Homo sapiens: one gene and its partner. The protein of the gene in region 2 purifies or fractionates together with the protein of the main gene of each other region. This does not show direct contact. Each region holds a gene or a part of one and is shown on either strand. Other genes may lie near its edges.

Region 1 (3,306 bases), on a different chromosome or scaffold from region 2:
TTCAAGTGATTCTCCTGCCCCAGCCTCCCGAGAAGCTGGGATTACAGGCACATGCCACACACTGAGCTAATTTTTGTATTTTTAGTAGAGATGGGGTTTCACCACGTTAGCCAGGCTGGTCTTGAACTTCTGACCTCAAGTGATCCACTCGCCTCAGCCTCCCAAAGTGCTGGGATTACAGACATGAGCCACCACGCCTGGCCAACCATATGATTTTTAAGGCCCCTTGCTGGAAGATCTGCCTTTAAGCTTCGGCAGGTTTCTGCCCATCTTTTCCTACTGTCCCTGCTTGGGTGGCCTCTTGAGAAGGGTCAGGAGGGTTTTTTGAGTTGCTTATGGCCCTAAAAGAACAGTGGTAGGGCTGAGGAATCACAGACTGATGGCATCCTTGAGCTGGAAAGGCCACAGGAGCTGGCCAGCCCTGACTCCTTCATGTACAGATGAGGTAGCTGAGGCCTGTGAGAAGCAGGACCCTCCTCCCACCGACTCCCTGCCCATGGTCACCCAGCAAGTCAATGGTGAGGCCAGGCCTAGAACCTATCAAGAGTTTTCCTTTCTTTTTGCACTCTTTTGTCAGAGTAAAACTCTGGGTCCTCCCATGTGCTGCTGGGGAGCTGTAAATTGGCATAGCCATTTAGGAGGGCGATTTTGCAATGTCTATTAAACATTCAAAATGTGCCAAATATCTGTTGCCCCACAATTTCCATTCTGTGAATTCATGGTATAACAATATTTTTATAAGTGTTTTAAGACAAGTTCAAATATGTTTACTATAACATTGTGATAGTGGTGAAAAATTAGAAGCATCCTCAATGACCTTTAACAGTGGATTAATTAAGTGGATGTGTGGTACGTCCACACTGTGGAAGATTGTAGCTTTTAAAAAAAGAATAGGGCCGGGCACTGTGGCTCACGCCTATAGTCCCAACACTTTGGGAGGCCAATGCAGGTGGATCACCTGAGATCAGGAATTCAAGACCAACCTGGCCAACATGGCGAAACCCCATCTCTACTAAAAATACAAAAATTAGCTCAGTGTGGTGGCTCATGCCTGTAATCCCAGCCACTCGGGAGGCTGGCTGAGGCAGAAGAATCGCTTGAACCCGGGAGTCAGGCTACAATGAGCTGAGATTGTGCCACTGCACTCCAGCCTGGGTGACACAGCGAGACTCTGTGTCAAAAAAAAAAAAAAAGAATGGACCGGGTGCAGTGGCTCACACCTGTAGTCCCAGCACTTTGGGAAGCCAAGGCAGGCGGATCGCTTGAGCCTAGAAGTTCAAGACCAGCCTGGGCAATATGCGAAACCCTGTCTCTACATAAAATACAAAACTTAACCAGGCATAGTGGCATGTGCCTGTAGTCACAACAACTTGGGAGGCTGAGAAGGGAGGATCACCTGAGCCCAGGTATTCAAGGATACAGTGATTTGTGATTGTGCCACTGCACTCCAGCCTGTATAACACAGTGAGACCCTGTCTCTAAATAAATAAATAAATAAAAATGAATAAATAAAGAGAAAAGTAAAATATTAGCAAGACCTGTTTATATAGTGTGATGCGATTTGGAGGAATTATTTTTCATTTGTCTATCTAGGACAAAGTCTAGATAGAAGCCAGACTGTTCACAGTGATCTCTAGGGGCAGGATCAGTAGGGGGCCTTACTGCTTCTACTTTTATTTAGAAATGTTTGCTTTTTTGAAAAAAAAAAAAAAAGTGTCTATATTACTTTTGCAATTAAAAAAAAAAGGTGGCTGGGCACGGTGGCTCATGCCTATACTCCCAGCACTTTGGGAGGCCAAGGCGGGCAGATCACTTGAGATTAGGAGTTTGAGACCAGCCTGGGCAACATGACAAAACCCTGTCTCTACTAAAAATACAAAAATTAACCAGGTGTGGTGGCATACGCCTGTAATCCCAGCTGCTCCAAAGGCTGAGGCATGACAATCACTTGAACCCAGGAGGTGGAGGTTGCAGTGAGCTGAGATCATGCCACTGCACTCCAGCCTGGGCAACAGAGTGCGTCTCTGTCTCAGAAAGCCCTAGTATAGAACAGAGATCAGCACATGGGCCAAATCCTGCTCACAGCCTGTTTTTGTATGTTCAGGAATAGAGTTATAAAAAAAATACACAGAATATACAACAGAGTCTATATGTGACCCACAATGCCTAAAACATTTGCTTTCTGGCCTGTTACAGAAGAAGTTTGCCGATCCCTGCTCTAGAGGAAAGGGCAAGGGTGGTTGTGAGTAGTAATTTAGAGCCTGAACTCTTTCTTGCTGTAACTGGGAGGGTCTGTGCTTCCTCTCCCCATACCCCATTTCCTCTTCCTGCAGGAGTTAAGTATGACATTGACCTGCCCAACAAGAAGGTCTGCATTGAATCTGAGCACAGCATGGACACTCTGCTTGCAACCCTGAAGAAAACAGGAAAGACTGTTTCCTACCTTGGCCTTGAGTAGCAGGGGCCTGGTCCCCACAGCCCACAGGATGGACCAAAGGGGGCAGGTGGGTAAGGCCCCAGCACTTGCTGAACAAACCTACAGCTCACACCTCTCATCAGAGCGAACACCTTGGCCTTTGAGAGCTTGAGTGGAGCGGGAGAGCCCTCTGGGTTCTTTTCAATCCACTGTCCACCTTCTTTGGAGTGGTTACAAATATTTTATTATTGTCTAATGCAAATCACAAGTTCAGGGAATTCTTACAGACCCTGTGAGTGGACAGAGCACTGTGTAATGTCTCCCAGAGTCCTCTTTCAGACTTGAGGGTTGCAGTTCATGGTTAGCAGGGTTTAAGTTTACAGTATGTGACCCTAAGCAGTGCACCTTTGACTTCTTTATTTGTTCATTGGTTTGAGACAGTGTTTCACTATATGGCCCAGGCTGGAGGGTAGTAACTCTTCATAGGTGTGATCATAGTGCACTATAGCCTTTAACTCCTGGGCTCAAGTGATGCTCCTGCCTCAGCCTTCTAAGTAACTGGAACTATAGGCACCTATCACCACACATGGCTCTGGCTTTGATAAACTGACTATCTCATCAGAGTTGACACTTGTGCCTTGGGCCTTGTTCTCCTGTGCCCTGACCAAGTGAGTTAATTCAGACTGTGCCGCTCTCTCTACTTGAAACTGTTGTCAGCTTCCTGAGCATGCCCTCTGTCCAGACTGGTACAAAAACAATAGCATGTTTGAGCTAGATGTTCCCTTCACTTTTATGTAATCCAGTGATGCAGTAAGGGGCACTGTGCCAGCACTCTTCGCTCTGGAACCAGGCAGACCTTACTCATTGATCCAGCCACAGTCTCAGCAGGG
Region 2 (3,751 bases):
CCCCCCTTCCCCACTCCCAGAAGGCCAGGAGGGCTCAGAGGCACTTCTGAGGATCTGGGAGTTGTCGAGGCGGACTCAGAGTGCCAGGGCTGGGTGCGGGCTGTCTAGGGTGGCCTGGACTCACCCTGCACAGGGAGCCCTCGCCTATGAGACCCTGGAACGGCCCCCTGGGGAGGGCAATGGGCAGCAGAAGAGCAGGCGCCGGTGGCAGAGCCTGCTGCCAGGACCCCACTGCAGCTCCCTTGGCACTCCCCAGCACACACGCGCATGTACACACACAGGTTTTCCAAGTGTTCAGGTTTACTGAGAGCATTAGGGGCAACAAGGGAGCCCTGGGCATCTGGGGACAAGGCCTGGCATTTGCCTGGACAGTGGCCCTGCAAGCAGCCAAGGATGGGGTCTCCACCACCTGTGCAGAGAGAGACAGGCACAGACGTGAGTGCAGCGTCCACGGCCTCCTTTGGGGCCCACGAGTGGTCAGGCCTCCCTGGGAGGGGGCATCCCCATCCCGAGGGTGGAACCAGGAGGCAGGATAGGGGGTGGGGTCCTACCTACCTGGTTTACTTGAAAGTGTGGCTCTCGGCTCCGCCCCGCCCAAAGCCTGCAGAGAAGGTGGAAAAAGTCAACAGGCTGGGGTGGAGGAGGCTGTGGGGTGGGGTGGGGTGGGGATGACGGGAGCATACCTTTAGGCCCAAACATGGCTGCGTAGCAGGGGTGGTTGCAGTAGGGTTTGCCTTCGTGCTGCAAAGAGAAGGGCCGTGAGGGGGTGCCATCACCCCTGGCCCCTGCCACCAGGGTGGGTCCCACCTACCTCAGCGTGGCCCCCAGAGGTCAGCGTCTTCCCACATTTCTCGCACTTCAGGCAGGGCCGATGCCAGTCCTTGCCCAGAGAGGTCACCCTCTCGGCTGCAGAGGCACAGACAGGCCCCGGTGAGACGCTGCAGGACGCGGCGCCTACCCACCACTGGCGTACCCGCCTCTTGCAGCCAGCTCTGCCCAAGGCCCTGTGCACTTAGCCCGCATCCGCCCAGCCTGGCAGCCCACCCTAAGGTCTCAGCACCCTCCATGAGGGGAACATCTCCAATCCCCAGAGCCAATACAACTAAACAAAGCGCGGGGTCGCTGGTCCCCGGGGCACTTTCGGGTGCGGCCGGGAATCTTGCTCCTGAAGGCTGGGTGGGGCTAGAGGGCGAGGCCGAGGGTCAGGGGTCGCGGCTTAGGTCAGCAGGGCCTGGGCCTGGCTGCCTGCTTTCAGCCCCGGGCCTCTGCGGTGGCAAGGGTGGAGCCTGCGACAGCCCTTCTCGGCGGGGACAGGGGTGACTTCCCACTTCCTCCCTCCCCTCGGGGCGCGCGGGCGCGGGGCAGGGAGGCGGGCGCCCGGGATCGCGCCCCGGGCGTCGGTTTCCGCGTCTGTTTCCACTTAGCGCTGGGGGGCGCGGCCCCAGCCCCGCGTTCCTTCCAGCCCTGCGGGTCCCCCACTCAGGGCGCGCCTGAGAGGAAACGGCAGAGACCGTAGGACCCAGAGACGGGGAGGCTCAGAGCCAGAGGTAGCCCGCCGAGCACAGCAAGACCACTAGCAGGCAGAGATCGCCAGGGCCCTCGGACGCAGGGGCCTCCACCCTCATCCCGGGGCAGGCGGCGGGCCAGGCTGAGGCGTTTTCAGGCTGGGGCGCCGCCCCAGGGACCCAGCGCCCCCGGTCCTCCTGAGCGGTCCCCAGCCTCGTCGCCCCGTCGGCGGCGCCTCCTCGCGGGGCCGGTGTGGGCGCGCTCACCGAAGTACACCTCCTTGTTGCACTTGGGACACTTGGGCATGACGGCTCCGGGTCCGGTGCAGGCGGCAGCGGCTGGGGCGGCACGGGCTGCAGGCGCGAGACTGGGTGGATCCGGCCTGGTCCGCGCCTTTCAGGGACCCCGGGACCCCGCCCCTTGGAGACCCCGCCCCTCGCGCCCCGCCCTCTGAACCCAGGACTTGGACCCTGGGGACCTCGAATCTAGGCCCAGGGCCCAAGAAAGATCATCTGGTCCACCCCCGCCTTCAGGCAGGACCCGGGCCTGACTGAGGACGGAGCGCGGGGGGGCAGGGGGCCATGGGGACTTACTGAGAGGGCGCAGCTCTTTAGGCGAGTTCAAGCCGCGCCCCTAGCCCAGCGCTGTGATGTCTCCCGGGTCCAGTTCCGAGGCAAAAGGCTCACCCGCAGCAGGAAACGCCGCTCCCACCCCCAGCCCTACCCCACCGGCACCCGCCCGAACCCCAGATCTGCCCGGGCCAGGACTGGACCAAACATCACTAAAATGCAAAGAGATGCAAAGCAGCCCGCGCGCTGATCCTGCCCTCCCCAGGACGGAGGGTCGGGGACAATTGCCGGAGAGCCCCCGCTGTTGCCCCCCACCGAGGAACCCACTCTGACCTTCCATCCCACGCAGGGTTACGAGGCCGCCCCTGTCAGTCCCCTCACTCCCAAGGGACGTCCCCGCCTCTGCTAGCTCCCCTGACCTCCGCTGCTCTGGGAGGTCCATCGGACCGCAGCGGGAACATCCCCGGGGAATTCAAAAGCGGGGACTCCCAGAGAGGGGAGCTGTAGCTTGAGGACCGATCGGCTGCGGGGGCTGCGGGGGCTGGGGTTTCGGCCGGCAAAAGAGAGTTCAGCCACCCCCAGGCCGGCTCGGAGATGCCCGGACCGGGCGCAGGGAGGGGCCCTTATCTCTGCGGGTAGCGCCCAGGGCGGCCAGAGCGGTCCAAGTACGCTGCAAAGTTGAGGCGGAGGATGGTCCCGGTGCCAGGCGGAGTCTGTCCCGCCTCACCCGCCCCCCAGATTCAGGAGGGCCAAGGGGGCTGCGCTGGCCTCGGGCTTTGGGGTCAGCCCTCTAGCTGACTGGCCAGCCTCAGGAAGGGAGCCCAGGTCACTGTCAGCCCCCTCTCCTGTCACTGAGCAGGGGAGCCCTCTCTCTGCAGGCCCTTCACCTCCATGCTGCATGGAGCTCCCTGGGAGCTCCCACAGCACAAGGGCGGTGCTGCCCTTCCTCCCCACCCACCATCCCTCCTGTCAGCCATGTTAACCAGCGTCCTTATCTCCCCTCGATCTCCACTGGGCCTGTGCTGGCCCTGTCCCCGCTGGGGGCGCTGGAGACCATCCTCCTGGGCCCCAGGAGCCGCTGGCCTACCGCTGTCGGGCCCTGAGCCCTAACTGCACCTGTGATCCCAACCTCACTTTCCCTGAATCCTACCGCACCCCTGTCGGCACCTCGAGGCCTGCACTTAGAGGAAGAGAAGCCGCCTGCCCTGCCCTGTCTGCCACCAGTCCCCAGCTTGGGGAGAGGGCAGGGGCAGCAGGGCTGTAGGACGGCCAAGGCACAGGCGTCTGGCACAGAGGCCACACTCCAGAGAGCCCCACACCAGCACACCCAGCCCAAGGCCACATCCTGCTTGCCCTCCTCCTGGCGCCCCTCTAAGGCCACAGTTCTGTCCCCCGACTGGGGCTAAGTCCTGGGGTCTGATAGGACATTCCACAGGGGCCCATTGGAGCCCTCCTCATCCCCCATTCTGAGACCTCAGAGATAAGGTTTCCAGAGTAGGGGTGCGCTCCTGTCCTGCAAACTTGGAACCCCCACTCTCCAGCCCATGAGCCTTGAAACCCACTCTGAGGTCTGGGCCCACCTGCCATCTCCACTGAGTGTGGGGCATCGTGGGACAAACCTGCAGACAAGCAGAGGGAGAGGCAGAGGCACCAAGAAGGGGGAGAGGCCAGGGGAG

What was found. Proteins that work in one complex are often made in the same cells at the same time.
Region 1: the proteins of CRIP1 (region 2) and ATOX1 fractionate together in Homo sapiens (co-fractionation; one large-scale study listed by BioGRID). This does not show direct contact.

What each region holds. Positions count from the first base shown.
Region 1 is NC_000005.10:151,745,477-151,748,782, reverse strand, and holds part of ATOX1 (copper transport protein ATOX1), read left to right. Parts: intron 1-2,333; coding exon 2,334-2,458; 3' UTR 2,459-2,504; intron 2,505-3,306. UniProt on the Homo sapiens protein: Binds and deliver cytosolic copper to the copper ATPase proteins. May be important in cellular antioxidant defense.
Region 2 is NC_000014.9:105,485,321-105,489,071, reverse strand, and holds CRIP1 (cysteine-rich protein 1), read right to left. Parts: upstream 2,187-3,751; 5' UTR 2,100-2,186; intron 1,874-2,099; 5' UTR 1,813-1,873; coding exon 1,773-1,812; intron 907-1,772; coding exon 812-906; intron 742-811; coding exon 684-741; intron 602-683; coding exon 561-601; 3' UTR 556-560; intron 410-555; 3' UTR 125-409; downstream 1-124. UniProt on the Homo sapiens protein: Seems to have a role in zinc absorption and may function as an intracellular zinc transport protein.